6 linked regions of the Homo sapiens genome follow. The protein of the gene in region 3 interacts with the protein of the main gene of each other region in a pairwise test. Each region holds a gene or a part of one and is shown on either strand. Other genes may lie near its edges. The genes, in order: FH, C20orf202, CCDC102B, ZBTB32, TPM3 and MARK1.

Region 1 (4,385 bases), on a different chromosome or scaffold from region 3:
GCGGAGGGGCTCTCCTGTGCATTAACATTTAGCGGCATCTCTGGCTTCTGCCCAATTAGAGCCAGTAGCACCCCCCTCCTCTGTGATGACAACCAAACATGTCTCCAGACATTGCCAAATGTCCCCTGGGAGACAAAATTGCCCCTAGCGAAAAAACATGGAAGTTGACTTTCGGAACAACCCTCCAACAGGGAATTCTACAAGCCTTATTTAGATTGCATCATAAAGCGGTTTCACTTCACTAACATCACACAAAGATGACTGCCAACTCAAAGGATTCCATGATGCCCTATAATATGCTGGGATACATCAGACAGCTGTGCAAAGACTGTCTGAGGCTAGGAACTTGATCTGCCATAATCTTTATTACATAAGTCACTGTGTCTCTCGTGACCCTCAAATGACAGCCTATTTAGACTGAGAATGCCTGCTAAGGCAAAACATTCAGCATCATAGTGGATAAACTGTTTCACAACTACAGATCAGTTGCCAGTTTGGTTGTCGGGGTCCAGGCATAGCTATGCAGTCTAATTGATTTTATTTTCCAATAAAAATCTTTTTCTAAAAAAAACCAAACAGAATGTGCCAACGGAAAGCATGCTTTGTTTTAAAGCAAGCTACACAAGCATCATCGCATCGCCCTCTGAAAAACACTGGCAGAAACAGTATTGCATGAGCTAAAAAGTAGATCCTATAGGTTCTCTATAGTTCAGTTTTTAAAGTTTGAACAGCCTTTTAATAGTGACCATTCACGCTTAAGAAATTAGAAAAATATAAATTTCATCTTTCATCACAATGTTTCTAGAACTTTTTAAATTACGCTTTTAAATTCTATATAAAGCAACTACTTCAAACTACGACAGAGGAGTTGGTGTTAATGTGACTGATTTCCCAAGAATATTAGGGGGTAAATATCCCATTTTTTAAAATGTACCTGATAGAGTAATACTTACAGATGAGATGTTTTAGTTAATGAGAGTTCCTCTTATGATCCTGTTATTTATTACACGAGGTAGAAGAAAAAATAGAACAAATGCCTGTTCCGACTCCCTGCATAGTAGAGGTTGGCTCTATTTTAAATACATTCCTTAGCTTTGGATTTGGGTCACCCTATTCTGCATCTCCCTATAACTGCTAATTCAAAATCCCCTAAGGTTGTTTCAAATGAATTTCTGCTGAAGAATCTCAGCACTTGAGATGATGAACAAGACTCACTTTCAGGACATCTTTCCTTTCCTTCCCATCTTCCTGCCTGCTCCCTTTATCTTTCTAACCCTTGTCCTGTAATTCTTAACCCAGTCTTTTTGTTGTTTTTTTTCTTTTGAGACAGGGTCTCACTCTGTCACCTAGGCTGGAGTGTAGGGGTGCAATCTTGGCTCACTGCAGCCTCAACTTCCTGGGCTCAAGGAATCCTACCACCTTAGCTTCCTGAGTAGCTGGGATTACAGGCACACACTACCAAGCCTGCCTAATTTTTGTTTTATTTTTTGTAGAGATAGGGATCTCATTATGCTGCCCAGGCTGGTCTCAAACTCCTAGGCTCAAATGATCTTTCTGCCTCAGTTTCCCAAAGCGCAGTCTCCTAAAGTCGGTGTCCCTGACCCACCATGCCTGGCCTTGATCTGGTCCCTCTGTGGTAACAGAAACAAGGTTGGAGGGATAGGTGTGTGTTTAACACACAGGATATGTATGTCCCAATTTTCTTAACCTATTCTATCACACACACACACGTGCGTGCACACACACACACACATATACACATCCCCACTCAAAAGGGCTTGGTCACTGTGTCTCCAAATCAAAGGAAAATAAAAGATGGCTAAGGACATAGTTTGGGAATGAGATAATAAGATATAATCGGGCAATTTTTTAAACCACCAATAACCTCCAAAATTAAAACCCTTTAGAAATTGGTAACTTATGAAGTCACAAAGACAACATGCACAAATATCATAGATTCAACTATAATACAAGTCAATTAACATAGGAGAAAATTTAAGTCTGTTTTCCTTTTTATTTTATAAATGTATTTTATTTTATACTTGTTTAATCCATCTTAGACCTAGCACATCCTAGGGTTTTATATACTGATCAAATTGCTCTGCTAGAGATGCTTAAGTTCAATAGCAGTTTCCTTTCAAACTTATCCGTTTTTAAGAAATGGGAGTCTGTTTTTTTAAATTTTATACATGTTTATTTTCATTATAAATTTATGTAAATCACTTTGGACCCAGCATGTCCTTAGGTTTTACCCATTCGTCAAACTGCTCTGCTGTGAGATAGCCAAGTTCGATAGCAGTTTCCTTTAAGGTTGATCCATTTTTGTGTGCTGTCTTAGCAATCTTTGCTGCCTTGTCATACCCTGAAGAAAAAATAAAAAGACGACATATGGGTTAGCAGTGATATTTGGTTTCCTAAAGCAAAAGGTGACATAATTGTTTACTTGATATTGATGCTATATGGGCCTCTTAAATGACATTTTTTGTTTTTAAATTAGTTAACAGTGATTATCTCAATAATCATTTTTTATGTAGAACATTTACTTTCCTTAAGAAATAAACACTTAAACATACCTCACTTTCTCCAACAGATTTGTTCCTAAGTTGAAATTTTCCAGTAACTTAGATATTTTGAAGGGGAAAAAAGTAGAAATTATAGCACCACGACATAAAAATATACATCTGGGTATATTTTTCAAACAACATGTTTAACTAGAAACAATTATCTTTCTAAAGAAACATTAACAAGCTAAATGCTCCAGTCCAGCAGAAAATAAAGCACTGCACGTCTGGCAACTGTGGTGAGTGGCTCTGAGAGGGGAGAAGTCCTCGCAGTGAGGCAGGCGCAGGCAGGGCCTGGGGAGGGGTGCCTCCAGAGCTGCTTCCAATGGCTCTTCTCTATGTGGCTCTCCACTGCAATGGCTTCTATACCCTGGCCTCCTCCCAGACATTACAGGGACACAAATAGGGAGTCTGGGCAGAAATACAGACTGCACAAAAGATCACAGGCATACTGTTTACTTCAGAGTTATTTGCTTTTCAAATTAATAAAAGTGGGGGCAGGGCAGTTCTGCAAGCTGTCTTAACATATATATATATATATATATATATATATATATATATATATATATATATGTCAAGAAGAAAAAGCAGGAATGAAAATGAAACCAATGCGGGAGAAAAAAAACAAGATCAGAGAAATATGACCAAAAGGAAGAAGCTTGCTGAGGCAGTATACATCATCAATAAGATGGCATGTGTCAATATGCAATTATTAATCAGCTATAAAAGAAAGCATGGGCATAGTTACTTTTATTACTTAACTGAATTTGTGAATGCTAAATATGTTGAAAAGGGCATTTATTGATCTGAAAGGGCATTTATTGATGCCATTTACTGAAAAGGGCATCTTTCTTAAAGCAGAAATGCTTTGAGAAAGAATTTGCATGTTAAACTCTTGAGATCAATATATATCCAGTACTTTTATTTTAATAATGGCTTTAAAGTCTAAGCATTTCAGCTGTCAAGTCCAACAAGACACTATTGGCAACCAGCCTGGTACATAATGAGAATATAGGGAACCCATGATTCAGAGGGTTGTAAGGCTCACACCAAGTCAACTAGTGAGGTGGTGTTGACCCATCTCATTCTCATATGGCCTCTAACAATTCTTTTTATGTCACAATAAGTTGATTCCAATAAAGATTTGCCAATCATTCAACTTTAGGAGACACCTCTAATTTAAAGTTTTGGTAACACATTCTGAAGTAAAGATCTGATGAAAACTGCTCACACGAGCCTCTGGGTTCCCCTTTGTGTTTTTCCAGATGTAGTTGATGTACCATAATTTTAAATGGATCAAACATTATTACCAATCTCAATGCCACACCAAAAAACTGATATCATACTGGGCTCAGAGCTACCTAAAAGAGTCAAATGAGCTCTAATTTTAAAAAACTGTAATTATAGCTTGATGTGAAACCAGGAATATAAAATTTGCCTTGAAAGTTCAAGATTATAGAAGAAGCAGTAGCCATATTATGCCAAATAAGTGAATCATAACTTGTTCTATAACAGAAAGGCAGAAAATATATTAACCTCTGCTTAGCAGAAAGGAAGAATGGGTAAAAGGCTTTTAACACATCATAATATAATGCAACATAATGCCTCAAAATCTACAAAAGTGTAAACAGTTTATTTAATGGAGATCTCTATGGTCAGTCTACTACCCAAATCTGTATGTTTGATTCTACATAATGAAATATTTACAGTTCCAAAAAAGACTTATAATACAATAGCATGGTTTTAGACAAAATATTTGCATTTTCCTTCCTCCCTTTCACTATAAGCAATGAATACATAAACTTTTTCTTTTAATTGTAACTT
Region 2 (5,594 bases), on a different chromosome or scaffold from region 3:
AAGGGAGAGAGCTTCGTCTGCTGTCTTCCCCTCGGAGGAGCTGGGCCAGACCCCTTGAGCAAACCGGCTGGCAGCCCCTGCCTTCGGAGCCCGCTCGAGCTCTGATGGGGGATGTCCCTCCGCTGGACCTGGCGTCCTCCCAGTGGGCGCTGTCCGCACGCAGCTCCTCCAGGACACTGTGAAGATGCCTCAGTGTGAGCAGGAGACTCTGATCTTGAATCTGCATCTCAGACTAGGAGAGAGAAGGAGCCTGTGAGGGGATGCGTGGAGCCCTGGATGTTTCCCCATCAAGCCCCTTCCCTCGCTGTCTCATCGGAGACCAGCCCACTTGTGATTCGCACAGCCTCACAGAAGCCGTATCCACCAATGCCTCAGTTTCTTGCTCTGCAAAGCAGAAAGCAAATTGCTTACTTTTCAAGGCTTTCATGAGGACTGAATGAATTTGCCCATGGGAAAATCCTTTCAAGGGGTCAGCGAGGTCAAAACTACTTTGGTTACAATAGTAAGACGTTATTTTCCTTTTTTTGCTTTCATTTTCTTATGAGCATACCATGGAGTTTTCCAGAAGCTAATGACATGTAATGTCTCAACAGACTGAATGCAGGAAGCAGCTATGAGAATCCAGCTGTGTTCTATTAAGACAGACATTAAAGCAATTTGCAACAATGTAAAATGGGGCTACTCTTCCCACTAAATATTTGCTTTGAAAAATATAGTTATTTTGAATAAGTAATGTTTTATTAACATATTATGAATTTGTTATTATTTTAGAATGCATTAGTAAATATATTAAAAATGTCTCAGCTTTGGCTTCTAATTCAGTCAGTATTGTTATATATAACTCACGTAAACAAAAGCTTTTTGGTGGCCTTAATAATTTTTTGGGGCATAAAGGGTTCCTAAGACCCAAAAGTTTGAGAACTGCTGCATTAGAACTCTCCTGTCATCTTCAGCCATCTCCATTCTTTCTCCCATTTTTTCCTGAGAATTTTTTCCCATACATTTTCTCTCTTTTTCTTTCTGTTTATTTATTTATTTATTTATTTTTGAGGCGGGGTCTCACTGTGTTGCCCAGGCTGGAGTGCAGTGGTGCAATAACGGCTCACTGCAGCCTCGAGCTCCTGGGTTCAACTGATCCTCCCACCTCAGCCTCCCGAGTAGCTGGGACTCCAGGTGCACACCACCATGCCCGGCTATTTTTTGTAGAGGCAATGTCTTGCCATGTTGCCCAGGCTGGTCTCAGACTCCTGGGCTCACGCGATCCTCTCAACTCAGCTCCCAAAGTTCGCTTTCTCTTTAAAAATGTTAAAATTCTATTTTTTGACTAAGTAATTCTTAACACATGATAGAAAATTTAAAAGCTACAAAAGGACATATATTTAAAAGTCTCTCCCACCCACCTCACTTTATCCCTCAACTCAAGCGTCCTTCTCCAGAGGCAGCCACTGCAAATGCTTCTGTTTTTCCTTCCAAAGCTGGTCGGGGCAACACATGGTTAGATATACAGATTCTCAGCCTCTCTCTTTCTCTGTCTCTCTTTGCAAGAGATACTTATGAACATTATTTCCCCACTAAAAATAGTGTTTTCATTTTTGTGACAAGCTGATTACAAGTAAGAAGACCAAGTCTGCATCCTCTACTCAAGCATGAGTAACACTGCCAAGAGAATATGTAGCTAGAAAGAGAGATGTGAGGCCAGGCCCAGTGGCTCCCACCTGTAATCCCAGCACTTTGAGAGGCCGAGGTGGGCAGATTGCCTGAGGTCAGGAGTTCAAGACCAGCCTGGCCAACATGGTGAAACCCGGTCTCTACTAAAAATACAAAAAAATTAGCCAGCCGTGGTGGCATGCGCCTGTAATCCCAGCTACTAGGGAGGCCGAGGCAGGGGAATCACTTGAACCCAGGAGGCGGAGGTTGTAGTGAGCCGAGATCGTGCCACTACACTCCAGCCTGGGCGACAGAGTGAGGCTTCATCTCAAAAAAAAAAAAAAAAAGGAAAGACGTGAAGCAAAGGTGTAGTCGGCCTCCCTCAGAACACTGGGACGACTCAGGCTGCAGAGCGAGTGGTCCTGGGCCCATTTTTTCCTAATTCCTCAGAAAACATTCACTCTGTGTTTTCTCGATTTTAGGGTTTTCCTCCTGCACATATTTCTGGGTATGCGCCTACAAGACCACAGTGGGGTTCCCAGCACGGAGGTGGTGATGAGGCATCCAGGCACCCACAGTTTCAGGGAGCATAAGGAAGACAGCTGCCCAGTGCTGGATGCCTGCTGACTGTGGGAAGCTGCAGTCCCTGCTGCTGGAATTCCCTGGTCCCATGAGAAACCCTACTGGGTCAGCCCTTCCTCTGGGGTGATGACAGGGTTGGGTCCCAGCTGGCCTGTTGCCTGGCAACCCAGAAAGGTCATTTTTGGACAATCCTGTCTGTCTCTCCCCAGGATGAGAGGTGTGTATATTGAGAAACAAACCTCTTCTGAGGTTCCCTGAGCTGCCTCCTCTCTCCTGGCTGGTGTCCCCACACACTTGGGGGCACCCCTCTTTTTTCGGACTTGGAGAAAATACCATAATGAAAGGCATAAGCCTGGCTTCCTGAGCAGCAACCACAGGACCAAGTAACATAACATCGGGTCAGGAGAGTTAGTGCTCCATGGGGGAGGCCCTTGCCAATGGGAAATGAGAGACAGGAACGAGCTGGGCAGATGAATTTCCTCTCGTTCTCTCTCCCCCAATGTGCAGTTCCTCCTTCAACCCCTGCAGAGCATCTCAGCTGCTGAGACACCCACTGGGCCTCCTTAAGGCAACTTCTGAAGCCGTAGGCTGCTTGGTAATACAATGTCTGGCGTAATTGCCTGGCATAGCATTGGCCTCTGCTGCCACACCCTATGTTCCTCCCTATCACCACCCTTGGCTTGTACTTCCAAATAAAGTGCTAGTTTCTCAATCCTTGTCCAAGCCTCTGCTTTCTAGGGGACCCAGGCTAAGACATTGGGTGTACGCATGTCCATCTGGGTCAGGGTTATAATAGCCAGCACCACGGTGCCAAGTATTCATTAAGAGGATTACAAGCATCTCTTCAGTGAATCCTTACAATACCCCATATGATATTGGTACTATTGTTATTCCCATTTTGTGATAAGGAAACTGAGGCTCAAAGAGATAAATCCCCTGCTAGAGCCACACAGAGGACTCAGCACACACGGAGGACTCAGTGTCATTCTAAAACCAGTCTGGCCAGCACCACACCCAGCACCTCCCATATAGGCCACGACCTACTTATCCCTGAACCTGAGATCACAATTGTGCATTGTGTGGTAGGTCCCAGAGGGGAGACTGCAGGGTCCATACCGTAGCCTGCAGCCTCTGCCCCAGGGGGGACCCGGGAAGGAAAACCAGAGATCTTTGGAAAATATGTAGTCGGGGCATCAAGGAAAAGCAATGCAAAACCTTACCAGCTCCTTTCTCAGCCACTCCAAGGTCTGCCCAAGACTCGGGCTGGGCTCTTCTGCTATTTTCATCTCAGTGTTCTTAGGAGTGACCTTGACACTGACCTGGTTCTGGGCCCGAGGGATCTTTGACTTGTACATTCCCCCAACTCTTTCAGACTGGCAGCAGGTTCTGGCCAAATCACTGAAGATGGAGTTAATGAGAGCAGGAAGTAGCTCACATTGAAAAATGTAATCTGGCTTTTTTTTTTTTTTTAAAGGGCTTTAGTGCTCTGAACAGAACAAGGAGGAAGGGAGGGAGACCATTATGGGTCCGAGTACCTTGGAGCCTGCTGTTCCAGAAGCCAAGAATATGTGATGCCAACAGGATCACAGAGAATGCAAAGCTTTAAATGGCAACAATATGGTTATTATGAAAATAGGCACTCTTTTCTAAGGGTTTGCTTTGTGCTTTACATATAAACTATGTATATGTCTCATTTGGCATATACCTCCACGGGTGTCCCAAGTCCCTGTCCTCATTTACTTATCTATAGAGTCCAGATAAAGGAAATGCTCACTTTCCAAGTTTCCTTGTTTCTGGAATCCCCATGTGACCCATTTCCAGCAAATGAGATCAAAGCAGCAATTTGCTGTTAGGCTTCCAGAAAAACTTTTACCTTCCTAACAAAAGGGAAAATGTCACTGCTGCTTCCCTTTTACTCCTACTTTCTCCCTTTTCCTTCTGCCTTGAATGTGGATGTAATGTCTGGAGCTATGGTAACTGTCTTGCGACCATAAGACAAAGCCCAAGAAAATCACAGAGCCATTAGAAATCATTGCACCCCTGACTCGGCAACAGCATCTATATGAGAAAACAGACCCGATGTCTAATGGAACACTCTGCTACTTGCAGGCAAACACAGTCCTGACACACCATTTATTCTTCCCATTGTTATAGGAAAGGGGTCCCAACCCAGACCCCAAGGGAGGGTTCTTGGATCTCATGCAATAAAGAATTCAGGGGGAGTCCATACAGTAAAATGAAAGCAAGTTTATTAGGAAAGTAAAGGAATAAAAGAATGGCTACTCCATAGATAAAGCAGCCTTGAGGGCTGCTGGTTGCCCATTTTTATGGTTATTTTTTGATGATCTGCTAAACAAGGGGTAGATTATTCATGTCTCCCCTTTTTAGACCATATAGGGTAACTTCCTGATGTTGTCATCGCATCTGTAACCTGTCATGGCGCTGGTGGGAGTGTAGCAGTGAGGATGACCAGAGGTCACTCTTGTGGCCATCTTGGTTTTGGTGAGATTTAGCCACTTTCTTTACTGCAATTGTTTTATCAGCAAGGTCTTTACGACCTGTATCTTGTGTTGATCTCATCCTGTGACTTAGAATGCCTTAACCATCTGGGAATGCAGCCCAGTGGGTCTCATCCTCATTTTACCCAGCCCCTATTCAAGATGGAGTTACTCTGGTTCAAATGCCACTGACATCATCACACCGTGAAGCAGGTATTCAATTCTCTCTTTCGCTAAACACTTATTGAATGTCTACTGTGTGCCGAGTTCTGCTCTAGACACTGGGGTTATCAACCAAAATCAGAGAAACAAAGGCCCTGCTTTCCTGGAGCTGACATCCTAGTAGTCATTGGAAACAAACAATCAAATTAATGCTACGATGAAAATATGTAGACTCTATTCTCACATAGGTCTTTTAAAATATAAATTTATTGGGCAGGCGTGATGGCTCACGCCTGTAATACCAGCACTTTGGGAGGCCGAGGTGGGCGGATCACCTGAGGCCAGGAGTTCGAGACCAGCCTGGCTAAACATGGTGAAACCCCGTCTCTACTAAAAATACAAAAATTAGCCGGGTGTGGTTGTGGGCGCCTGTAATCCCAGCTACTCAGGAGGCTGGAGCAGGAGAATTTCTTGAACCCAGGAGGCGGAGGTTGCAGTGAACTGAGACTGCAAATGTATATATATAAATTTATTCTATTCACATGCACTAGAAACTCCAAACCAAGAATTAGCATAGTGACCCCAGATAAAGATGTGAAATGACTGGCAAAGCAAACTCAGCCGAGTTTAGGGAAACTTGCCCTCAATCTGGCTACACAAAATATCCTCAGATAGAGCTCCCCTGAAGATGAACTCATATAAGAA
Region 3 (5,058 bases):
TTAGAAACTCTAATGTCAGTGAATCACAGCTGTCTTCCTGCTCCATGTCTGCACCTACACTCTTGATCAGGCTTTGAGAAAACACACCCATTGCTATCTGGTCTCACTTCAGTTTCTTGACTCTGAACCTCATATGGGCTTTAATGTAGCCAAGCCAACTCTACCATAGGGAAATTAATATTTTTCCCTGATTAAATCACAAACATTCTACTGAATAATCCCATACATTAGCTATCTTCAAAATTTTCATATCTTATTCAGCTCTGCCTTATCTGTTGAGATTGCGGGGGTTTTTCTATTTCACTTACAAAAGATATGTAATTATAAGACAACTGCCATCCACTGGTTCCATCATATCTATGTGTCTAATGGATACCCATATGTTATTCTGTCTGTTTTTATAGAGAATTACTCCACGTTCTTAACACCAAACTTCCCATTTGTATGCTCTATCTAATTTCCTCTAATCCGCTCCAGGACATGGCCTCCTCAAATATACTCCTCTCCTGTTTAACTAGTTTGTACCTCTCTCTAGATTAGATTATTCCCATTAGCAAATGCACATGCTATAATACCCTCAACATAAAAAAAAAAAAAAAGATTTTGATCCCAACCCAGCAGCCATTCCATATCTTTGGCATTTTCTAAAATAAAAATTATTTTAAAGACACTTTCATTTATCTCATTTTCTCTTGAAGTCGCAGTATCATTTTCAACTCTAGTTTGCCACAAAAACAGGAAATCAGTGACTTCTACATTGCAAATCTAATGGTCAATTCCAGGCCTGAAATTCCTGTTTTACTTGGCCAACCAGAAGCCCTGTATGTGATTGTCCATTTCATCATTCCCTTTCTTGGCTTCTGAGGGCATCCTCTCTCATGGTTCTCCTCCTACTCCCTGGTAGCTGCCCCACATTCTGTCTCAGCTTCACACCTCTGACTGCAAGCGCTCCAACACTGAGACTTCAGGCTGGGGTAATTGCTCTGGGTGAAGGCATCCAGGCCTTTGACTTCAAATTCATTAATTTTCTGAAATTTCCTAACAGACATATCTCTGGCCTGAGATGTTCCTTTATCTCTGGGATCTCACGTGTCCAGCTGCCCACTTAACATCACTAAGGATATCTAATCAGCATCTCAGATTTCACATGTTCAAAAACAAACACTTGAACTCCCCTCACATCTACACCTGCTCCTCCACAGTGTTCCCTGTGTCAATAAATGCACATTTCACTCTTCTAGGTTTACAGACCAAACTTAGGGGTTACCCTTGATTCCTTTGTCTCTTCATTGCACATCATTGTTGGAAACTCCATCAGTTCTGGCAGGAAAATATGAAATACAGCCTATGCAGAATTACAAAAACTCCATCTCTAATATCTCCTTCAAACCACCCTGTCTCTTGCCTGGAATACTGTATGGTATCTGGCCTCCCCACTTCTACCTTTTCCCTACTCCAGTATGTTCTCCACAGCACAGCCGAGTGGATGCTTTGAACACTCAACTTATGTTACAATATTTCTAGGATCCCAACATTCAAATGACTTCCCATCAAACTCAGAATAAAGTGGTTGTAGTTTATGATGTTGTCATGATCTAAACATAAACCATCCCTGAACTCTTCATCAGGACCCATGATTTCCCGACCTGAGGCTCCTACAGTTGGGGTATGAAGAGCCCTTTTAAAAGTAAAATAATATTAGGTTGGTGACCATGTAATTGTGATTTTTCCCATTGAAAGTAATGGCAAAAAATGCAATTACTTTTGCACCACCCTAATATCTTGAAGCTTAAGCTGGATTTACTTCCTCTTAAAGTAGCTTCTGCCTGTGCCTCCCTGCCTCGCTCATTCCCAGCAGCTGCCGGCCATCTGGCCATTCCTTGAAGGGACATTCTTCTGACTTAAGACTTTAGCACATGTGATTTCCTTTATACTTCTCTTCTGCCAAGATTCCTCGTGGTTAAGTATCTTACATCCTTCACCCTAACAGAAGGGACATTCCCTGGTTATTTCAAGAGTGTGTAAATATTCTATTCCCTTTTAGCCTGAATGTTCTTTTTTTCTTCCAGTACTTATCATGACTTAATATATATTTATATACTATGTATGGATTCTACTGCTTTACCAGCTAGACTATATGCTTAATGTAAAGAAAGGGGTTTTACTTTTTATTCACATCTCTATTTCCATTGCTAGAACAGTGTCTGAGACATGGTAGACATTTATTACTAAATGGACAAATCTAAAACAGAGTGACTTAGAACTATTCCTTTTCTTCCAAAAGGCAAGCATTACAAGTTCCACTAAATAAGTCAGTCTTCTCTAAAGAAGGTGGCTTTTAGATATTAAACGCTTATAGGCTTTTAAAATTAATAAAGAAACAGTTTTAAGTGAGGTTAACCCCAATCACACCACTTTAATTGCTATCAGCAACTTCATTCTTCCAAGTACTTAAATAATTCACAAATACACCTATGATGATTATCTGTATATACAAAAGATGAAGATTTACATTTATTTGGCCAGAAATACTTTTGAAACAGCGTGGAAAGTGGATAGGATATTTGGGAGAACAAAGCCATGTATCCCTTTCAGAGATAAGAGGACCAAGGGGTTTCAAAAGAATCAGCAGATGGGAGGTGGAGTTTGTCTTCTGCACTATTTCTACTTCTGATATCGTTTTGGATAAAGATCTATGCTTCTCGAATATGTCATTTATATTAATTCAGATAAACATCCTGCTCAATAATATGGAAGAAACTTATAGCCACAGAGGAAACAATGACGGCCAACCATAGACAATGAATGGACCATGTGAGGTCCAGGACCAGAGCTTTGCATTCAGTACCTATGCTTAGGCCCCAGCCTTCTGTGAGAAGCCTGTATCTGAGATAGCCCTCCTAGTTCTAATCCATGAATACTGGAATTTCTCCCATTAATCTACATTATCAGGTCAAATTTATTTAGTCCTGATACCAAAAACATAAAATATAAAAACATATCAAAAACATAAAAGCCAGCAAGTAAATTCATATAGCATTAACACCTTTAGAGGGCACTTGTAGCACGACATAATTGCAACATCCATGTTTTTAATCCATGCAATCATAAATTCTATAACTTAAGTTTCATTATTACAAAAAGAATGAAGAAGCCTGGGCAGTATCAAAAATAGGATGGCAGGGACTCTACGTAGTTGCTTTGACCCAACTCATTCCTACCATTGACAATACCTGTAAAGTGATTTCCAAACAAAGATAGAACAAAGCTCACCTGAACCCTCAGACAATCCCTGAGATTATTCTAGCTCCAAATTAGGAACAGGTTATAACCAGAACCTTCTAGAATTATATGAAACACCAATGGATTATGGCACTTCCACATCTTTCTCTTTTTTCCTGTGCTACCAAATGTTATAATCCCACTGAGCACCTTATAATTTTCATGTTTTATTGTGAAATACATTTTCTTCTCATCCAGAGAAGAAACGCTTGTTCAAAACCCTTCATGTCAAAAGAAGATAGAAAATTCATGAATATAGGCTGACTAATAAGACTATTTGATCTTTTGCAGAGGTCATAAATGTAATCTTTCACCTAATGCCTTCACAATCCTAAATTCACTAAGGGAGGAAAGGAAAGATTGTATGAAAGACTCTCAAAACTATTTCCAAATGAAAATGAGTCTAAAGTTGCTACAGGTTTTTCTTCATGCAACTATTGCCTCTTTACCTGTGTTATATTTCCAAACGTTTACTGCAGCTTAGAAACATATGCTCCCGAGTCAGTGACTAAAAATCTCACTTTTATTTTTGGAAACTTTAATTCTACAAATTTGAAACAGACACTATGATAAGATATATTTATAAATTCTTCAGTGAGCATATGTTTTTTTTCTCAATATTAAGGACACCTTTTTCTTTAGCTACTAAAAAAATCCTTCTATCAAAATTTTAACATCAAATATTTTAATATATTTATGACACACAACAGCAATTCTTTTAGGAAATATCATTAAATATAAATCAACTTGGATAATATTTAAGTATATAATAATGTTAACAGTCCTTTGCAAAGCTATGACTACAATTAAATGGCCTTGAGCACAACCTCCAATACAATATCTAGTTTTCCATTTTACAATCAAGGTCTCAAGCTCACAATCTCCATTGAGCATCTACAATTAGTCAGGGCACTGAGGATGGAGCACTAGTTATACAAAATGTCTTCTATAGAATATATTCTTAGAATGCAACCTAAACCTGTACAAAAATAAAATCTCAAGGTCAGTGACCAAATCTTTGCATTTCAACTATCCTCATCTGTTTTCGTGTACGGCAAAAAGATACTCCTTCAGTAAAGCCTACTTAATGATAGTATGATTCTAAACTAGTAGGCAGTATGTTCATAAAATGATAGCATAGTTACCATCATGTATACATTGAACAAAAAAACCTCGTTGTTATGAAATAAGCTATAATTTTTATTTCATTGAAAAAAAAGAAGAAGAAAATGAATGTTATCCCAGATACTAGTTCTACTTTGAGAAGAAGTAATGTCTTTAAGGTTTGGATATATGAAGGAAAACATGTTAATAAATAAGTTCTATTCTTTTTTACTGTGAATGTACTGTATTTCACACTATCTATTACAATGTGAATTTTATTTATGCTTTTCACCTATTGAAATGAAACTTATACAATGCCTTTATTTGATAATAACTTGGTCATTCCATAGTTTTAAGAGTATTTGGTCGCTGAGTGTTCGTTGATACCATGTATCAAAAAGAAACAGAGGAAAGTCAGTACATCCCCAGTGTTATTCCTGGCCACCTCACACATCTCATTTGTGAATAGGTAATATTCAGTGCAAATCAGTGATGACATTTTCTTTGAGAATGCAAAAGATACCTTCTCTAAGTAGATTTAAGAAAATGTAAGAGAGAGAAAAGCATAAGTGTTGAATCTGAGGGCCGCTAATTTAAATGTAAAAATTACCCCTTATTTGCAGCGTCAGTCTCTTCTCTCAATTCCCAAAGGAAAAGTGTGGCCCAACTGAT
Region 4 (5,058 bases), on a different chromosome or scaffold from region 3:
GGCAGGAGAATCGCTTGTACCTGGGAGGCGGAGGTTGCGGTGAGCCGAGATCGTGCCATTGCACTCCAGCCTGGGCAACAAGAGCGAAACTCCATCTCAAAAAAAAAAAAAAAACTGGAATTGGGTCATGTCTGGAGCTTTTCATTCTCCCTGTCCCACTCTTTCCCATGCCTGTTCTGATAATTCCTAGAAGATGAAGATATCAGGCTGTAGGTGCGGGGCAGGTGCATGGGGAGGATGAACATCGTAGTGGAGCACAGGAAGAGGTGTGTGAGATATTCTCCTCTTTAGGAAATCACCCAGGTTTTTGGCAGGGCGTGGTGGCTCACACCTGTAATCCTAGCACTTTGGGAGGCCGAGGCAGGTGGATCACCTGAGGTCAGGAGTTCAAGACCAGCCTGGCCAACGTGGTGAAACCCCATCTCTACTAAAAATGCAAAAAATTAGCCGGGCATGGTAGATGCCTGTAATCCCAGCTACTTAGGAGCCTGAGGTAGGAGAATCACTTGAACCCAGGAGGCAGAGGTTGCAGTGAGCCGAGATCGCGCCACTGCACTCCAGCCTGGGCAACAAGGGCAAAACTCTGTCTCAAAAATAAATAAGTAAATAACATAAAGGAAATCACCCAGGTTGTCTTTACTGATGATCTTTTTTATACTCATGGGGCAGGGTGTTGATACCTAGTTTCATTCAGCTGTTCAGTGGTATTTATGCTTTCGGAGTGCCTTCAGTACACCCAGAGTTCTTTAACCAGGGGTGAGGGTGCAAGGAGTGGCTTATGAGTGGACTTCAAGGAAGTCTAACCCCGAAACCAGTTAATATTGGGGCAGCTCAATTGGCCATTCCCTCTATGGTGTGGTGGGGGCCCGGGGTGCTGGCACATGAAGTGTGCAGTTAATCCCAGCTCGGCAGACAGCCACCAAGCATGATGGCACATGCCTGTAATCCCAGCTACTCAGGAGGCTGAGATAGGGGGATGACTTGAGCCCAGGATGTCAAGACTGCAGTGAGCCATGATTGTGCCACTGCACTCCAGGCTGGGTGACAGAGCAAGACTGTGTCTCTAAAAAAAAAAAAAAAAAAAAAGAACAATTAATGGTATGCATGTATATTATGAGGAGGGGAGGGTAAAGAATAAGCTAGACGATAGTTAACCTCTCCAGCCATGAGGCTCAGAGTAATCTGTCAATCTCTTGTCATGCATTCATATGCCAAGTGGTATAAGTGTCTACCATTTTCTTTTTTTTTTTTTTTTTCGAGATGGAGTCTTAGCTCTGTTACCAGGCTGGAGTGCAGTGGTGTGATCTTGGCTCACTGCAACCTCCGCCTCCCGGGTTTAAGCAATTCTCCTGCCTCAGCCTCCCAAGTAGCTGGGATTACAGGCACGTGCCACCACGCCCAGCTAATTTTTGTATTTTTAGTAGAGACGGCATTTCACCATGTTGGCCAGGACGGTCTCTATCTCTTCACCTTGTGATCCGCCCACCTCGGCCTCCCAAAGTGCTGGGATTACAGGCGTGAGCCACCGCACCCGGCCTGTGTCTACCATTTTCTAATGTCAACAATTGGTCCCAGGCTGGGTGGCTCACACTTGTAATCCCTGCACTCTGGGAGGCTGAGGCGGGTGGATCACTTGAGGTCAGAAGTTTGAGACCAGCCTGGCCAACATGGTAAAACCTCATCTCTACTAAAAATACAAAAATTAGCCGGGTGTCGTGGTGCGTGCCTGTAGTCCCAGCTACTCAGGAGGCTGAGGCAGGAGAATCTCTTGAACCTGGGAGGCAGAGGTTGCACTGAGCCAAGATCGTGCCACTGCACTCCAGTCTGGGTGACAGAAGGAGACTCTGTCTCAATAAAAAGAAGAGTTAGTCCCATGGGTGACATTCTGAACCTGATGGTGACTCCCTAAGAGATTTAGAACCATTGGAATAAAGTAGGTTCCTATATTATTTATGGGGCCTGGGCAAGATGACAGAGACTCCCTCGTCTCTTCCCATGCCTGGTGTTGGCCCATACTTCAAGGTGTCTCACATTCTAGCCTGCACATCCAAGCTCAGTCTACAAATCCCTTACACAAAATCAGGGTCTAGCGTGTGTGTACATCAGTCAGAGTCCACTCTCATGAATACAGGCCTGGGGTTGAGTCCTGTGTAGGGGGCCTCAGAGTCATTTGGTCCAGGAAATCCAGGGTGCTGAGTTCTCAGAGCATGGTCCAGAAGTGAGGTGGGAGCTCACAGTTCCGGGTAGGCACTTTCTAGATGCCTTTTGACTCAGCCTATGCGAAGGGATACAGCCAGAGGAGGTCCAAATGGGACCCTTTGCCCAGGTTTAAGTCAACACTAGTATTCTGTACTGGTCTTGAAACAGCCCCTGTGAGGAAATTGAGGGTCTTGGAAGACTTAGCTCCATATGAGTGCTGAAGAGAAGGGCCATTCACTGTGAAGGGATGCAGTGAAACCTGTTTTCCAACTTCTAGTCTAGTTCTTTTTCCAGTTAATCCACAAAGTGTGTGCTATGAAGGGGCTAGATTCAGCTCACCTGGGTATGACTATAGCTGGTTCTTGGATCATATAGAGCACAAATTTAAGGGAAAAAGGGAACTAATTCACTCCTTGTGGTGACTCTTTTCTGGAAGTCTTGGATGTACTTAACCAGAAAGACGGAACATCTTTTTTTTCTTTTTTCTTTTTTCTTTTTTTTTTTTTGAGACAGAGTTTCGCTCTTGTTGCTCAGGCTAGAGTGCAATGGCGCGATCTCGGCTCACCGCAACCTCCACCTCCCGGGTTGAAGCGATTCTCCTGCCTCAGCCTCTCGAGTAGCTGGAATTACAGGCATGTGCCGCCACGCCCAGCTAATTTTTTTTATTTTTTGTAGAGACAGGGTTTCTCCATGTTGGTCAGGCTGGTCTTGAACTCCCGACCTCAGATGATCCGCTTGCCTCCACCTCCCAGAGTGCTGGGATTACAGGTGTGAGCCACTGCGCCTGGCGAAAGAGTAAACATACTTAAAGTTCATGTAAGATTTGGATAATCGCTCTTAATCTATATAAAATGCTGTGGGGAATTTAACCACCTTCATTTGTGGAAAGAGATGGGTTCACGGGAAGAGTGGCGAGTTCACAGAATTTTTCTAAATTGAATCTTGTTCAACTTGGCTTGGGAAGAGGGCTTGATATTTAAAATAAGTGAAATAGAGGGAGAACTTTTTCACAAAACAAATGATCATCCCTCCCATTGGTCTATTCTGATGGTTTGATTTTAATTATAATATTTAAGGAGAATTGGTATTTGTGTTGCTGTGTTGACATTGTTACATCAAGCTGGGTTGTGCCTCAAGAAGTTCATGATACAAGGATTTCTGGGAAGCTTTGACTTTGCAGCCAGGGTGTGCCCCGAGCCCCTTGCACATTTTTCCCTTAGTGTCCCATTGGTCAAGTCTACCAGTAAGAATAAGAACTATCAGATTTCAGGCCAGGCGTGGTGCCTCATGCCTGTATCACAGCATTTTGGGATGCCAAGGCGGGCAGATCATGAGGTCAGGAGTTCGAGACCAGCCTGGCCAACATGGTGAAACCCTGTCTCTACTAAAAATACAAAAAATTAGCCGGGTTTGGTGATGCACACCTGTGATCCCAGCTACTCGGGAGGCTGAGGCAGGAGAATCACTTGAACCCAGGAGGCGGAGGTTACAGTGAGCCGAGATTGCGCCACTGCACTCCAGCCTGGGCAATAGAGCAAGACTCTGTCTCAAAAAAAAAAAAATCAGATTTCAAATTTTATTCAGTAATACGAGTATTAGGCCGGGCATGTAGGCTCACGCCTGTAATCCCAGCACTTTGTGAAGCCGAGGTGGGTGGATCACCTGACATCAAGAATTTGAGACCAGCCTGGCCAACATGGTGAAACACCATCTCTAATAAAAATACAAAAAATTAGTCAGGCATGGTAGCAGTTGCCTGTAATCCCAGCTACTTGGGAGGCTGAGGCAGGAGAATTGCTTGAACCGGGAGGCGGAGGTTGCAGTGAGCCAAGATAGCGCCATTGTACTCCAGCCTGGGCAACAAGAGTGAAACTCTGTCTCAAAAAAAAAAAGAAAGTAATATAAGTATTAAAAAGGACTGAGAGGCTGATATCATATTGCCTTTTATCACATACTCCCCTTCCAATCATGCCCTACCTAATCTCTCTACCTGCTCTACCCTCTGGCAGGACACAGGCTTGTGTCTGCATAACCTGTTGTTTCTTTGCTCTTTCCAGAGAGACAACTGCAGATGATTCCTACCGAGTCAGCCCAGGAAGAGGAAGGGGGGGCAAGGTTTTTGAGTCTAGGGAGGGGGAGTACTTTTAAGAACAGCAACAGACCAGGCATGGTGGCTCACACCTGTAATCCCAGCAGTGGATCACCTGAGGTTAGGAGTTCGAGACCAGCCTGGCTAACATGGTGAAACCCCATCTCTACTAAAAATACAAAAAAATTAGCCGGGTGTGATGGTGCATGCCCGTAACCCCAGATACTTGGAAGGCTGAGGCACAAGAGTCGCTTGAACCCAGAGGCAGAGGTTGCAGTGAGCCGAGATGGCGCCACTGCACTCCAGCTTGGGTGACAGAACAAGACTCTGTCTCAAAATAAAAACAAAACAGCACCAGCAGTGTCCCTACTCTTCCAAGTCAAAGTGCTGTCTGCTTCTGCCATCTGTGCTCAGTGCAGGATGGCTTGGGTTGCACTGTCAAGAATGCAGGAAGAGGCTAGAGAAGTGCTCAGGGTGTCATCAGCATAAGGGTTGCAGTGCAAAGGGCCCTGGAGATAATTCTAGGAGGCGGTCTCTAAGGGGATATCCTTAGGTGGGGTTCCCCATTCTTGGGGGCTTTTGTTCACTGAAAGGGGAGTTCCCTTGCCCCTCCTCCCTTTTAGGTTCCCCGAAAGCCCACTGATGCTCCCTGTCAACTATATTTGGCTTACACAGAATGCTGCCCTTTGAGCAGTCTCCAACTCTCTCGATCATCAATGAGCAAACCAGCGGGGGAGCTGAGTCACAAGCACATGATGTGGGGCTGGAAA
Region 5 (5,058 bases), on a different chromosome or scaffold from region 3:
ACACACAAAAATCCCATCCCAGCTTCCCCAAAGTAATAATATACTAGACGGTTCTGCAACTTGTTTTCCACACTCTTTTTTTTCCCCCCGGTATTCAGCATGCAGCTATCCTCACTTTCTTTCTTTTTTTTTTTTTGAGACCAAAAAAAAGAGGGAGGCTCACTGCAACCTCCGCCTCTTGGGTTCCAGTGCTTCTCGTGCCTTAGCCTCCTGAGTAGCTGGGATTACAGGCGCGCCCCACCACGCCTGGCTAATTTTTGTACTTTTACCAGAGACTGGATTTTGCTGTGTTGGCTGGGGTGGTCTTGAACTCCTGGCCTCAAGTGATCGTCCACCTCAGGCTCCCAAAGTGCTGGGATTACAGGTGTGAGCCACTGCGCCCGGCCCTCACTTTCTATAATTTGCATGCTACTCTAATAGTATACACATAGCTGCCTCTTTCATTTTCACAGCTGCACAGTAGTAACGTACCCTTAGAAAGGCACTATTTATTCTGAAAACCCTTAGTTGTCAAGCACCTCTGTTCTAGTTTAACTCACATGTGGCAAGGAGACAACTGGCTATTTTCAAAAACATGAGTTATAATTTGTTTCAAGGGCCATGGTTCTCAACCCTAGGAACACATTAAAATTAGCTGGGGAAGGCCGGGCGCAGTGGCTCACGCCTGTAATCCCAGCACACTGGGAGGCCGAGGCGGGAGGATCACAAAGGCAGGAGATCAAGACCATCCTGGCTAATACGGTGAAACCCTGTCTCTACTAAAAATACAAAAAATTAGCCGGGCGTGGTGGCGGACACCTGTAGTCCCAGCTACTTGGGAGGCTGAGGCAGGAGAATGGCGTGAACCCGGGAGGCGGAGCTTGCAGTGAGCCCAGATTGCGCCACTGCACTCCAGCCTGGGCTATAGAGCGAGACTCTGTCTCAAAAAAAAAAAAAAAAAAAAAATTAGCTGGAGAACTTTAAAAACATCAATGCCCAGACCCCTCTTGCAACTGATTCTAATGGAACTGGGATGAGATCTAAGCATCCAGTTTTAAATTCCCCAGTGATTTCCCCCCTCACCCCTACCTATGATTCTAATAATGCAACCAGCGTTGAGAAGGCTTACTAAAAACAGATTGCCAGGCCCCACATCCAAAGTTTCTGATTCAGCAGATCAGCATAGGAGCTGAGAATGTGAATTTTTACCAAGTTCCCAAGTATTGCTGATGCTGCTGGTCTGAGACCTTACTTAGAGAACCTCTGTTTTAGAGAAATTAATCTCACAAATAGAAGCTTATGATCCAGAAAGTAGAAGTCATACTGGTGATCCCATTTTAAGGATCATTAGGCCAATTTGTAAGGAAATACCAATTACAAAAGGGTCACAACATCTAAGTTACCCTTACTGTCTTCAAGGGGACAGAATATGCAGAATAGAAAGGAGATCCTGTGTGATGGAGTTAGTATTTTATTTTTATTGACTGATTGACACAGGGTCTTTCTCTGTCACCCAGGAGTGCAGTGGCGCAATCAGAGCTCACTGTAGCCCCAACTTCCTGGGCTTGAGCCACCCTCCTGCCTCAGCGTCCCAAAGTGCTGGGATTACAGGCGTGAGCCATCACACGCAGCCAGAATTGCTATTTAGAAAACAGGTCTATAAGGAAATCTTGATCAGAACTATTATGAACTTTTAAAATCCACACTCCATCAGGCTTCCCTACACACCTCTCACTCTCATCAGCAGCTTTTTCAGCTTCTTCCAGCTTTTGCAGGGCAGTGGCCAGGCGCTCCTGAGCACGGTCCAGCTCTTCTTCAACCAGCTGGATCCTACGGTTCAAGGAGGCCACCTCAGCCTCAGCCTGCATTTGAAGGAAAGAATGGACAAGGGAAGCAGAGGCATGGAGAAAAGAAGAAATAACTATGACATTAAGATCAGGGTTGACTACCATGAAAAAGCCAGAGTCTCGCAGGGTAGAACTTGTCTTAGCTCAGCTGTTAAAAGATCTAGCAGACATAACTTTATATATATATATTTCCTCCCTTTCCCATCAACGAACTCCCATATGTTCCACAGGAAGAGTGTTTTAAAACTCAGTTCCTTGCCCAGCCCAGTGAGTTAGTACCACCCACTTCCTGGACTCAGTTCAAATTCCTCAACACACTGGAGTCAGAAAAGAAAGTCAATGAAGGGTTCCTTCTGCCTGAGCTCTGGCTTGGAGGCATGTCTCATCCTCAGTAACCTTTCAAGTGTCTCATAAAGCAGGAAAAAAAAAAAAAAAAAAGCAAGGTTTCTTAAAGAGGGTATCCTGACTGGGTGTGGTGGCTCATGCCTGTAATCCCAGTATTCTGGGAGGCTGGGGCGGGTGGATCATGAGGTCAGGAATTTGAGACCAGCCTGGCCAATATGGTGAAACCCTGACTCTAATAAAAAATACAAAAATTAGCCAGGTGTGGTGGCGCGTACCTCTAGTCCCAGCTACTCGGGAGGCTGAGGCAGAAGAATCCCTTGAACCCGGGAGGCAGAGGTTGTACTGAGCTGAGATTGCGCCACTACACTCCAGCCTGGGCAACACGGTGAAACTCCATTTCAAAAAAAAAAAAAAAAAAAGAGGGAATCCTGGATTACCTATTAATTGCTGCTTAACTCAAACCGTTATTCCTATGATCACTTTACCCTAACACATCAGAAGAATAACTAGCCAAGGGAATGTCTTCCAGAATAGCCTTCCAGACTGGAAAGCAAAAGAATGGAATATTGTTGGGATGCCTACTCACCAGCCCTTCAACTTGTGCCCCCGTACTCCTTTTTTAAGTTGGCTACAAGGAGCTGCTTCTGGCTAAAATTATCTGCTTTGATAGCTTTACAAAAAAGAAAGAACATTTCCACCACACCCACTACCATTCCTCCAAATTTCTGAATTTTCTCCTTTCTATTCCTCCAGCCATCCCCTTAGCTTCACCCTCTAATACAGCGACAATCTTCCCCCTGGCCTCCATCTCACAATGAAGTATATAGGTTAGAGTCCAAGTAAACCCATCCTGGATGGGTTTTCTCTAAGAAACAAGGAAAGAAGGAGGCAGCCTGCAGGTGGATGGATAAATTCTAATGGTAGGAAAACCTCTTTCCATGACTGCCTCCCCGCTACCTTTACTGGTGGGAGGTACCCTGACTGCAACAGTATACAAGAATTTAATATGCCCCGCACACCACCCAGTTCAGATGCTTATCCAAGTGCCTGGTAAACACGATCTCTCTTCTATAGCCCAGATTGTGCCTGAATTCTATTACCCTGATTTCTTCCTGGCAGGCAGGAGTTGGTGCAGCTATAGAAACAGCCTGGGCCACTAGCTCCGATGAGGAAGAATATAGACCAAAAGACTCCTTTTTAACCATCAGGACTGGCACAAAAACTTCCACATACAAACATGAGAAGCTGAAGAGACTAGGAAGGGAAGCAGAGGGCTGGGGCTACAATCTAGCCACCAGGCAAAGAAAATCGAGAAGTCAACATAAGCTGAAATCATTAAGAAACCATTTGTGCCTCTAACTACACTACTCAAAACACCACAAAGACAAGTATTCTCTGCTTCTGCCTCTTCCAGAAAAATAGATGTTCTCTGTAACAACACACATTTCTCCTCACAAACCCAACAAGGCCATGGATCAAGAGCAAGTCAGGCTATCAGGCAAGACCTAGGAGACACTGCTAGTAAAATGACTTACCCCCCTCAGACGAAAAATACAACTAGATTTAGAGGAAGCTCATGAAATGTAAGACATCATGCAGCTCACCAGTAGTTACCCAAACTGGAGTAGAAGATAACAGGCTATGGGGCGGGGGTGTACAGTTGCCATGACAGCAAGCTGGCTCAGGCAGTTTCTCCCACAAATCAGCATTTACAATAGAATTCTTAGCAAGGCTGAAAAGGGAGAGGGGGAAAACACATCTTGGTGCCCTCCTAAGAGCATGCACACATGAACAAGCCTGTATCAAAAGCAGAACCTGAGATGGGAGTCCTAGAAAAAGCTTCAGAGACCCCCTCCAGGGTGGAGTGGTAGGGAATGGGACCTTGCCTTTCTCTTTTCTCCTAGCACAGAGGATCAGTTCTCTTTACAATGAAACAAAAGCCTGCAGAATCAAGATCTGATACTTTGTTTAAAGGAACAAGGAAGACAAGCTGACTTTTCCCTCATGAGTCTATGCACAGTGCCTGTCCCTTTCAGGTCAAATAATACCAATGGGTACCAAGAGATTGAACAGGCCTACTTTTTGCAGACCAGGCTACCTGTGGCCCTGGGAAACGTTAAGCTCTGCACTTTCCTAATCATCTTAGGTTTTAGCATGCCCATCCAGATGCGGTTTTGGTGTTTCAGCTGACCTATCTCTGCCCAGTGTGGAGGATATACAGTACTCTGTGGTTCTTCCCTTCAAGTAATAATAGGATTCTCCACTGCCCAGGAAGCAAAGATCCTGGGTGAGGGATTGGGGAAAGAGTAGAATGCCCCAGCAACTCAGTCACATTACCAGATGGCTGACAACACCTTCGGCTATCCTCCACTCCAAAGAGATTTCCCAAATATGTCAACCCCTCCAGGCAAGAAACTGACAGTGTGATGGTACTCTCAGGCAGAACAGGGCCAAGGACAGAAGGGGATTAGCCTAAATCTGGCTTTCTGCCACACTGGGGTTTCTCTTATTAGATAAAAGCCACAGATAAAATTCAAATGAAAGAGTATCAGAAAGTTAGGCTTGAGCCCTGTGAGTAAAGGACTATTTGAGTTCACTGTGCTCACAAATGCATTACCCAGGGAGATACCGTGTCCTTGGGGAATTTAAACTTCACCAAAGGGGAGGCAAGTTGGAAGGGAGTAGAGCTATCTGCCCCACAGTAAACAAAGGCGGAGCCTAAGCAGGGGTAAAGGGCTATCTGCCTCTCCCCTGTGAGTGTGTGTTCTAGTACTGGGGAAAGAGAAAGGAAAGCAAAGCAACCAAAGAAAGGTTGCTTAGTCCACCAGGCCCACGAATAGAAGAGAACCACACAACAGTCAAGCATTCTAACCTCTCCAGAGACTAG
Region 6 (5,058 bases), on a different chromosome or scaffold from region 3:
GACTGAAGCTGCTTCTTCTCTTTTCCACATCCACTCTTTGAAATCCTAGAAACACTAATAACATTGGAAACTAAGTATTTAATTAGTATTTCTTAAAGCAAGTATAATTATTTCTTACCCATCATTGAAGGCTCAGCTGAAATGATTATATGATAGGGTGCCTTCACTGTCTCCCTAGATAGAAACAATTGTGTCTTCCTCTGGAATCCAGCATGTTGCCCACACTTTTTAGCACATGTTCTGCTTTATATCATGGCTAGTTGTTTGTCTGCTTCTTACAAGACTATAAGAATCTGGAGGGCACAGATGCCATCTTACCTATCTTTAGATTCTGTTCTGCACCTAACACAGTGCTTTGTCTGTCGCAGGGCTTAAGTAGGCATTTAGTGGGACCAGGAATAGATGAAATCCACATCAGCCTGCATTGTAGTAGCAACTTGTATCATCAATGTGCACTGTACACGTATGCATAGTAAGCATAGTAAGTATGCTTACTTTTTAGAAAGTATAATTGTATTGTTTAAGTAGATTAGACCTTTACTATACATGTATTCATTTTGTGTTTACTATGTTTTGATGATAAGGTTTTATGATGTAAAATTGCATAAGTGATCTGTGACTCTGGTGTGTAGGCTTTTTATGCAAGAAGAAAAAAATGTAAATTATATATTATTAGTAAGCAATTTAAAAGTATTGTCAAGATAAATTTGAAGGAAACATGTAAACTCATTTCTTTTCCTCAATCAAGGCTTTTAAATATAAAATAATCTTTTGTTAAAACACACATTTTTGAAGTTAAGTCTTTGTTCTTTCCATTTTATTTTACAGATTTTTAAAATCTCATTTTGTCCATTTTTTCCTTTCTCTCTCTTAAGGAAAAATACTTTATGTCTTCCTAGATTTTTTTCTTCCAACTCTGTAAAAGAGCAGCTCTAATGAAATGTTATGAAACCATTTTAGAAAATTATTATAAAGATTTTTTTAAAAAGTCTAGTTTCCTTTATAATTTCTAGAGGAATCAAAACACGACAGTACATTGGTACTGACCTGCGAACAAATTTGGATGTGATTTTGCTTATTATACCAGTTGACGTTCCCCTTCTGGCATGTGCAAATGCACCCGTTTCATGGGATGGTGAAGCAGGTGGCCCATTATAAGCAACGCTGCGTCGCTCCCGGAGCTGTTCACCATGGAAAGTGCTTCGGCTTGAGCTCCCTCGGGGAAAACGGGTCCGGTCTGGAGTCGCAGTACTAATACTGTGAGCAGATGGGGAAGCAGCAGGCACTCTCTGGGTTGTACTGCTGGGACAAATTAAGATATATCATTCAGAATAATGACAAGAAAACCTTTCACTCAAGCTAAAAACTTGAAACAAATAGCTATGGCTACTTCTTTTGGCCCTACTTTATTTGTTCACATTAGAGATGTGAGACATGGGTTTGGAGTAAAATTTCAGTTTGAAATTAGGTACCTTTTGTTTGGTCACTAAAAATCAAGAAATGACTGAAACAGGGACACAAAGATAAATACTTTTCAGTATCAGGAATGCCAAACCAGGAGTACTGCAAATATTTTTTTAATATTCTCCTGAAACCACTTAGCAATGTTGAACACAAATTTTATTGTTTATTAAAAAGGCTTTGAATAAAATAATTTCCTATTTCTAATTTAGGCCTCAGTGATGCTACAATACCACATGGCACCACCAATATGCCTAACAAATCTAACAGAGGGTTAAAATGTTCAGATGTACTGAATTTGGGAAATCTTAAAATAGAAAAATACTAGAAAAACAATTATACAATTTTATATCTGAACAGGCTCTTTGAGTTCATCAGTTTCATTGACAGGAAAACTGAAGCCTGGTTTTATTAAGAACAAGGAATTGAGCCTGATCATTATCTGCGGGTCTCAACTCACAGTCTAGTGTTTGTTCGTATGGTTTAAATAATAAAAAAATCAATTTACCTAAATGACAAATTAAACAGCAATTTTTAACTTTATAGACGGATGTAAAATCAAATCCTTAAAAAAATTCCTCTAGAAAATGATTTAAGTTATATGCAACATTTCCAATAACAGCCAAAGTACATAGAAAGTTTATGTTACAATTCAATTTTTCCTCCATAACAAACACTGAATCTTATTAGAAAGGTCTTAATGTGATGGTGACTATCATGTATTTTCACATGGTGCTATATTTTTAGAAACTCTTAATGAACAAAATGAGATGTAACCAACACATTACCCAGGCCGGTAAGCTTCAGAGCCGTCTTTAATGGTTGGCAGTGTGACTTTAATAGGATGACCAGAAGTGGACATGGACTTCTGGTGGCGGGGTCGTGCTGAGGGGACAGCAGAGGCCACAGAAGAGCCTGCAGAAGATATGCTACTCACAGACATCTCCGTAAGGCTTTCACCATAAAGCAGTTGAGAAGACCATGGAAAAAAAGAGGAAAATTTGTGGTTTACTAAAATTTAAGAACTATATTTTAAAAAATCTAAACTGACTAACACCTTTCATGACTGAAACATTTGAAAGAAACTAACATTAGTGGCATTATTAATGACTAACAAAACAATTAATATTCTTATGAAAAGTATACAGGGTGAATTTATCACTATCATCTATGAAAAAAATCTCACACACACTATGTATGTAAATGTGAGAAAGTACAAAATTATTTTTGTGGATATACGATAGTTTCAGATAAAATTATTATGACTGGAGTCATTTTTTACTTCCCCAAAGTCACAGTTTGGTGTGATATGTTGCTGTAGTTCATTGTCCATTATTCATACAATCAGAATTGATAATTATACCAAAAATATTATCTCTAGATTCATCAAAACACTTTTAGATCATATTATGAGTCAATAGGTTAACTGTTGCAGATTAAAGGAGCTGCAGATTAAAATTTAGTATAGGAAAAATCATAAGTCTGAAATCAATTTCCAATTATCTTATGTCCAAAGAAGATACATTTTTCTTTGTATGCCTTACAATAGCACTTACTTTACATTCTTATTAAGTGAGAAGAAACAAATGTGAGAATGGGTTGTACACACTACTGAAATGACTGAAGGTGGTACTAAGAAAATAATTTCATTAGAATAGGCTCCATGTCTTTGTACTATATTGATGAGTAGTCCTTGTGACTCATGATAGAAAGAAGACACATCTTTTAAGTAATAAAAATAATATGATTTATTATTATTTGAAATAAAACACTTTAAAAATTATGTGGTTCTGAATGATGAGAAATAAGATGGTCACATTTTTTTCAGAGGGAGAAAAATAAAGCCTTTATTGAGATACAGCAATGACTTGATGGGAAGTGAAAGGGAAGGAGGCAGCAGGTGCATAAGAGAATAAGATTCAAATTATGAAGATGAAATTAGGATGGTATGATCTGCTTTGTTATAGAAAAATATTTACTATCAGATTTTACTCAGAAATTGGCAGGTAAAGAGATTTGTTTCTTGTTTTCTCTAAATGTTTTCCCATCCTTCTATCCTGGTACAGGAAAGATGTCTTACTAAGAACGGTTGGTTGCAATCTTACTATTTCATGTAATAACTGCTTTTCTCCTGACCCATTCGGCTGCAGGCATTTCAGCAAGGGCACTAACACAGAACAACAGCAAAGGTATTACTACTTGGCACTGTGGCATTTACCTGCTGTCTTTTCCATTCTGCAATGCTACGTATCGATCTGTGGTCCTTTCACAGACATATGTATTCCTTCTTGCCATGCTACCTCCAGAATACACATTGTTCTTCAAGAATAAAAAAAAGGCAATTAAAAAATTATAAATATATTTGTGGAAAGCCAAAGAAATGTATTTAAGCTGACTTTGAGAAAAATCCACAGAATTTTAATTGATCAGAATCTTATATTAACAAGATTATCCCCTGCCTCTCTCTAATTTAGATTTCAGAAGTAAAAGACAAAGCATCAAAAATGAACTCATTACAGTTTTAGCTTATCCTCCTATAATAGCAGCCAGCAGTTTGGAAGCAATAGGAGAGCTGGGTTTCTATTCACTCCCTCCTTTGTGAGCTGGTGGTAGAGAAAGGGCAGGAGCAGGGGTGTGAGCAGCTCTAAGTAACAAGGAGTGCAAGCCAACTCCACACTAAGTATCATCACCAACAGGAGCCTCGGGCAGTGAAGATGGCATGCCCACTCAGAAGCCAGTGGGCTGCCTTTCTTCACCTGCTTGGGAAACTCTCTCAACCACCAGGAATATTAAGCAGACTAAATGCCCCAGGATCAAAGGCATGTCCAGCTGAGGCCACCAACAGTGGTGTGTGCAGTGCCACCCTGAAGATATTTCCTCGAGTCTCAGGTTTGAGCTAGAAGGCAGGCCAAGTCTGAGGAGCCTTGGAGAGAAGAGAGAAAATAAGCAAAAAGGGATAGGCAGGTAATTCTCCTTACCATGCACACAACCTTTGACCTGTAACCCACTGTTGTGCCTGCCAAATCCTTGACTACTCACCAGTAATAAAATATACAGAAATGATTTTCAATGTGGATATAATACTCTTCTGTTTAATCCTTACCCAACAGAACAAAAATTTTTGCTACTTTTGACTAACCCAGCATTTAAAATATATAAGCAACCTAAACATTGTTGAATCATGAGGGCTACAAACTTAATAGATACTTGCTTGAATTCACTTTGAAGAAGGAAAAAAACTCATATAAACAAAACTGAATACAGATTTAAAATTTTTCAGTAGTGCAGGTTCCTAGATGGAAGGAATTTTGTCACCAGTTATATAAAAAGCATATGCTAAAAACTATAAAAGTATGGTAGCAAAACAGGCTAAGATTATTAAAATGTTTAGGTAAGACTTGGAACATGTAGGCCAATTGTGATGGCTCATGCCTCTAATCCTAACACTTTGGGAGGCCTAGGAGGGCAGATCATTTGAGGCTAGGAGTTCAAGACCAGCCTAGGCAACATGGCAAAACCCCATCTCCACAAAAAATACAAAAAAATTAGCTGAGTGTGATGGCACACACCTGTAGTCCCAGCTACTCGAGAGGCTTA

What was found.
Region 1: the proteins of CCDC102B (region 3) and FH interact in binary tests that used the Homo sapiens proteins (3 or more experiments, as listed by UniProt).
Region 2: the proteins of CCDC102B (region 3) and C20orf202 interact in binary tests that used the Homo sapiens proteins (3 or more experiments, as listed by UniProt).
Region 4: the proteins of CCDC102B (region 3) and ZBTB32 interact in a two-hybrid assay, tested with the Homo sapiens proteins (one large-scale study listed by BioGRID).
Region 5: the proteins of CCDC102B (region 3) and TPM3 interact in a two-hybrid assay, tested with the Homo sapiens proteins (one large-scale study listed by BioGRID).
Region 6: the proteins of CCDC102B (region 3) and MARK1 interact in a two-hybrid assay, tested with the Homo sapiens proteins (one large-scale study listed by BioGRID).

What each region holds. Positions count from the first base shown.
Region 1 is NC_000001.11:241,495,609-241,499,993, forward strand, and holds the end of FH (fumarate hydratase, mitochondrial), read right to left. Parts: intron 2,363-4,385; coding exon 2,220-2,362; 3' UTR 1,995-2,219; downstream 1-1,994. UniProt on the Homo sapiens protein: Catalyzes the reversible stereospecific interconversion of fumarate to L-malate. Experiments in other species have demonstrated that specific isoforms of this protein act in defined pathways and favor one direction over the other.
Region 2 is NC_000020.11:1,201,507-1,207,100, reverse strand, and holds the start of C20orf202 (uncharacterized protein C20orf202), read right to left. Parts: upstream 3,648-5,594; 5' UTR 3,516-3,647; coding exon 3,450-3,515; intron 233-3,449; coding exon 1-232.
Region 3 is NC_000018.10:68,800,406-68,805,463, reverse strand, and holds part of CCDC102B (coiled-coil domain-containing protein 102B), read right to left. Parts: intron 1-5,058. UniProt on the Homo sapiens protein: During interphase, forms fibers at the proximal ends of centrioles to maintain centrosome cohesion. During mitosis, dissociates from the centrosome following phosphorylation to allow centrosome separation. Contributes to CROCC/rootletin filament formation.
Region 4 is NC_000019.10:35,706,131-35,711,188, forward strand, and holds part of ZBTB32 (zinc finger and BTB domain-containing protein 32), read left to right. Parts: intron 1-5,058. UniProt on the Homo sapiens protein: DNA-binding protein that binds to the to a 5'-TGTACAGTGT-3' core sequence. May function as a transcriptional transactivator and transcriptional repressor. Probably exerts its repressor effect by preventing GATA3 from binding to DNA.
Region 5 is NC_000001.11:154,174,408-154,179,465, forward strand, and holds part of TPM3 (tropomyosin alpha-3 chain), read right to left. Parts: intron 3,798-5,058; exon of another isoform or gene 3,707-3,797; intron 1,842-3,706; coding exon 1,708-1,841; intron 1-1,707. UniProt on the Homo sapiens protein: Binds to actin filaments in muscle and non-muscle cells. Plays a central role, in association with the troponin complex, in the calcium dependent regulation of vertebrate striated muscle contraction.
Region 6 is NC_000001.11:220,649,342-220,654,399, reverse strand, and holds part of MARK1 (serine/threonine-protein kinase MARK1), read right to left. Parts: intron 3,781-5,058; coding exon 3,680-3,780; intron 2,415-3,679; coding exon 2,250-2,414; intron 1,303-2,249; coding exon of another isoform or gene 1,300-1,302; coding exon 1,048-1,299; intron 1-1,047. UniProt on the Homo sapiens protein: Serine/threonine-protein kinase. Involved in cell polarity and microtubule dynamics regulation. Phosphorylates DCX, MAP2 and MAP4. Phosphorylates the microtubule-associated protein MAPT/TAU.